Regions from separate parts of the Homo sapiens genome. Here region 2 is linked to region 1. A link means that fine-mapping ties the variant in region 1 to the expression of a gene that starts in the linked region. Tissue or cell type: whole blood. Region 1 holds a variant in brackets; the other region holds the start of a gene. All regions are shown on one strand. Distances are from middle to middle.

Region 1 (2,500 bases):
TTTGAGACAGTCTTGCTCTGTTGCCCAGGCTGGAGTGCAGTGGTGCGATCTTGGCTCACTGCAACCCTGGCCTCTTGGGTTCAAGCAATTCTCATGGCTCAGCCTCCCAAGTAGCTGGGATTACAAGTGTGCACCACCAAGCCCAGCTAAGTTTTGTATTTTTAGTAGAGATGGGGCTTTGCCATGTTGGCCAGGCTGGTCTCAAACTCCTGGCCTCAAGTGATCTGCCTGCCTCAGCCTCCCAAAGTGCTGGGATCACAGGCATGAGCCACCACTCCTGGCCCGAGAGGACTTCTTTTATCTTTAAAATCTAATCGTTTCACTAGGATCTGACACCTCTGAGTCAACTTTCCCAAGCACACAGAGTGGCCTTACAGTATTTATATTCAGGGTGGTTTGTTTTGTGGGGGAAGAAAATTTTATTATCAGTTTAAACATTAATTCTATTCCAGTGTTTTTTCTTCAACATAAAACGTAATGTAGTTGATAAAACCTAAATATAAGACCTGAAAAACTCCTAGAAGAAAACTCCGGGAAAAAGCATCACGACACTGAATTTGGCAATGATTTCTTGGATATGACACCAAAAACAGACAATGAAAGCAAAAGCAGGCAAATGAGACCATATCAAACTTAACTTCTGCCCATTAAAGGAAACAAGAGTGAAAAGGTAACCTACAGAATGGGAGAAAATATTTGCAAACCATGTATCTAATAAGAGGTTAATATCCAGAGTATATAAAGAACTCCTATACTCAACAAAAAATGAAATAACCCAATTAAAAAAGGGGCTAATGACATGAATAGAGACTTCTCTAAAGAAGGCATGCAAATGGCCAATAAGCAAACAGAGAGATGCTCCACATCACTAATCATCACGGAAATGCAAATCAAAACCACAATGAAATATCACCTTACCCCAGTTAGAATGGTTATTATCAAAAAGATGAAAGATAGTAAATGAGGAAACTATCAAAAAAAAAAAAACAGCATAATGAGTTGGTGAAGATGTGGAGGAACTGGAACTCTCATGCACTGATGGTGGGAATGAAAATGGTGCAGCTGCTATGGAAAACAGTACGAGTGTTCCACAAAAAATTAAAAATAGAACTACCATATGATCCAGCAGTCCCACTTCTGGGTATATATCCAAAGGGATTGAAATGAGGATCCTGAAGAGATATCTGCACTCCCATGTTAATTGCAGCATTGCCTGCAATAGCCAAGAAATGGAAGCAGCCTAAATGTCCATCGAAGGTAAAGAAAGAAAATGTGGTATATCCATA[T/C]GATGGAATGTTATTCAGCCTTAAAAGGGAAGGAAATTCTGACACATGCCACAACATGGAGGAAGCCTGAGGACATTATGCTAAGTGAAATAGGCCAGTTACAAAACAACAAATACTGTATGGCTTCTCTTATGTGAGTTATCTAAAGAAAAACTCTTACAAAGTAGAATGGTGGTTGCAAAGAGCAGGGGATGGACAGAGGCAGGGGGAAGGGAGTTGATGGGTATTGAGTGTGGTTTTACAAGATGAAAAAGTTCTGGAGATCTTTTGACCAACAATGTGCACAGAGTTAACACCCCTGTTCTGGACGCTTAAAAACGGTTAAGATGGGCCCGGCGCAGTGGCTCATGCCTGCAATCCCAGCACTTTGGGAGGCTGAGGCGGGTGGATCATGAGGTCAGGAGATCAAGACCATCCTGGCTAACACAGTGGAAACCCCATCTCTACTAAAAATACAAAAAATTAGCTGGGCTTGGTGGCACAGACCTGTAGTCCCAGCTACTCGGGAGGCTGAGGCAGGAGAATTGCTTGAACCCGGGAGGCGGAGGTTGCAGTGAGCTGAGATTGCACCGCTGCACTCCAGCCTGGGCGACACAGTGAGGCTCTGTCTCGGGAAAAAAAAAAAAATGGTTAAGATGGTAAAGTTTGTCATGTTGTTTTGACCATCACCACCACAAAACTCAATATAGTTAAATTTTCTTCTTCAACTACAGTTTAATTTCCTTTGCCTCTTTTCCTTATCTATTACTTTCTTATTTCATTTCTTTTCAATGGAGTATCTTCCCCCTGTGCATCTTCTATTTAGGTTTGCGATAACCTTTCCTTTTTCCTTTGTTTACGGTCAGCTGTGGTCTTCCACTCTCTCCATCACCACTGCCCCTTCCCTTCCGGTCTGCAGTTTCTAAGCCCTTGAGAGCTGGAGATCCAGGTGATGACCCTTGGTAGACTGTATGAGCAAACAGGTTCTAAGGTGGCCTCATCAGAGGGGTGGGCTAGAGGCTCCATAAGATTTAAAGGTACAAATTCAGTGACAATATTAGCTCAGGGGCCTTCTGGGATCAATAATTGGTTGTCTTTGAGTTAAAATTCTCACCGAGCAATCTCTGTGAAGGTGAGGGGTTATCTGTCCACTTAAGACACAGCTGGGAAGGTACAGGGAATGGGAGGTTATGGCAAAACTGAACAGGCTACAGGATAAACCTCCTCCAGTCTTA
Region 2 (2,663 bases), 25 kb after region 1:
CCTTATTGCAGGACTGAATTTGCTTTTGGCTTCTTAATCAAAAACCTGATCAGAGGCGATTATAAAACTCCCATCTCATCTTTACTTGAAAATACGAAAGTAGAGTCAATTTAAGTTATTAAGTCAAGGTCCCATCCAAACTGTCAGCAAATCGTGTTGGCTCTATCTTCAAAGTATTTCCAGAATCCAACTGCTTCTAATGACATTCCCTGCTATCTGCCTCATCTAAGCCACCATCATCCCTTACCTGGGTTATTCCAACAGCCTCCTAACTCGTCCCTGTTTCCACCCTATGATCCAAGACAATTCATTCTCCATACAGCAGTAATAGTGATCCTTTTAAAACACAAGTCAGGTCCTTCTTCAGCTCAACACCCTGCCATGGCTCCCCATTTCACTCAGTAAAAGCCTATAAGGTGTGTGATCTGCCTCTCCACTACCTCTCTGACATCCTCTTTCAGGTACTACTCTCCCCCTCACACAGGCAGCCTTGCAGTTAGGATTAGGGCACACTCCTGCCTCGGGGCCTTTTTACTGGCTGCTCCCTCTGCCTGGACCGTTTTTCCTTCAGATATTCACATGGCTTGCTACCTGAATCACCTCCTTCAAGTCCTTGCTCAAACATCACCTTCACGAGTCCTACCCTGACCATCTTACTGAAAAAATGTAACTCCCTCCTCTCCTATCACGGCGTAGAATCTACTATTTCTATGTTTACTGTCTGCCTTTTCATACTAGAATATCTTTCCATAGTATTAACAGCTCCATAAGCACAGGAAGTTTTGTGTTCACACATGTACTCCAAATGCCTAAAAAGTGCCTGACACAGAGTAAGTGCTCAATACGTATTTGTTAATAAATGGGCTTCTTAACAAACAAGCATATATGCCCAAAGGTATGCTCCAAGATACAAGGAGCAGCATTTTATTCGCTGCTACACCCACAGCGCCTAGCATCTGGTCGACTAAAAGACAATCGGAGCTACTGAAGTGACTGTTACCTCTCCGAGAGCAGAGTGAGCGGAGACGAGACCGCACCCCTCCCCTCAAACCCAGCCCAGCCCAGCCTACTCCGCCCTTCACCTGTGAGGAGACACCCAGGTGCTGGAAGCTGTAGTCCAGCAGCAACTCCTGAAGCTCCAGGTTGACCGGCACGTTGCGGTCGAAGGGCGAGCGCAGCATCCAGCGCAGTGGCTCCAGGCTGCCCAGAGCGTTCCCCACCTGCGGGCCCGACGCGCCCCGTGCCCCGCCACGACCGCGGGCGCACACCGCGCGGAACTGCAGGCGCGGCTCGGGACCTGGGTCCTGCCCGGGACACGCCCAGCCAGCGCGGACTTGGAACGACCCGTTGTCCAGCACCAGCGGTACCGGCAGTGGCCCGTGTGCCACCGGGCCGGCCTCCAGCACTGGGTCCGGTGCGGCACGGGCGTCGCGGAACGGGAACACGTTCGCCGCCATCTTGGAGCGCGCGTCCAGCCCCGCCCCTCGGCGCAGTGTCCGCCCAGACGCCGCGAAACCGCGCCCCCGACGTCACGCCGCGCGATTCAGGCCTTTAAGTACCTCGATGCCCCCTCCCTTCTCGAAGCCCGGCCAGCCTTTCCACTTGACTCGCCTCTGGCTGTCAAGGCTGCTTTCAGGATCGCTGAGACGTACCCATTCTGGCTGCGAAATTCTACGTTTCTTAACCTCTCCCCCAATAGCCTATGAGTGCCCACGCCCCTTCACTCTAGCCGGGACGCCCGGTTTGGAAGCCCCGCCCCAAAGCCTATCGCCGCCAGGCCCCGCCCCTTTCTGGCTGCCAGCTTCAGCGCCGCGCTCGGTGGAGCCCCGCCTCTCTGCCTGGCCACGCCCCATTGCCGGGCGCGCACCGTCGGCCGGGCGCGCACCGTCGGCCGGGCGCGCACCTTCGACCGCCGGCGGCCCCGCCTCCGCGTGGCTGTCTCGCCCTCAGTCTTGCGTCCTGGCTAGAAGGGTCCTTTATCTTTTGACGCTTCCTTTACGTTAAGAAATCTCAAACTCTGCCGACTGTTCAATTTCTTGACTAGGGAGCTGACTACTCAGTTCTGTTCACTTTACTAACTCGCACAGACTGTGTCTTCTCACTAAGACACAGTGTTTTCTCAAACCCTGAGAAAAGACTGCTGATTGTTCCCCAAGCATTCCCTCTCTTTTAGTGGCATCACCTCCCACTCCCACGTGGCCATCCGTCTGGCTGCGATCTAGATGCGCTCATGTGACTAAATTCTGGCCAGGAGCGGGTGGGAGAGGAGGCCATGTGTGTGACCCACTCAGTTTTAGCCCTAAAAGCACTCGTCGCGCTCTATCCTGTCGCATTTCCATCTTTTCACTAGCTAAGGGGGTAAGAATTAGAGCAGTTGTTTTACTACAACCTTTTTTTGTGCAGTGGGGCGATCTCGGCTCACTGCAGCCTCGACTTCCTGGACTCAAGTGATTCTCCCGCCTCAGCCTCCTAAGTAGCTGAGATTACAGGCGTGCACCACCACGCCCAGCTAATTTTTATATTTTTAGTAGAGAAGGGATTTCACTATGTTGCCCATGCTGGCCATAACCATTTTGAAAGAAGAAAAAGAATAGAGCAGCTGCCTTGAATCTACTCTACCAGGTCTATAACACTTCAGTTTGAGAGATAAAATCAAATTAGTT

Evidence for each region. PIP is the estimated chance that this variant, and not a neighbour inherited with it, causes the effect.
Region 2: it holds the start of ACTR5, and the variant in region 1 is fine-mapped to the expression of ACTR5 in whole blood (INTERVAL, PIP above 0.99).

The regions. Positions count from the first base shown.
Region 1 is chr20:38,772,757-38,775,256 of GRCh38, reverse strand. No RefSeq gene overlaps it. Among named protein-coding and RNA genes, the nearest start is that of ACTR5, 26 kb to the right of the region's middle. The variant T/C (reference allele first, on the strand shown) is at 1,287.
Region 2 is chr20:38,747,273-38,749,935 of GRCh38, reverse strand. ACTR5 (actin related protein 5) reads right to left here and starts at 1,476. Exons shown (of 9, transcript NM_024855.4): 1 at 1,083-1,476. The coding sequence starts at 1,457. RefSeq lists silencers at 1,241-1,430, 1,731-2,000 and an enhancer at 1,379-1,880.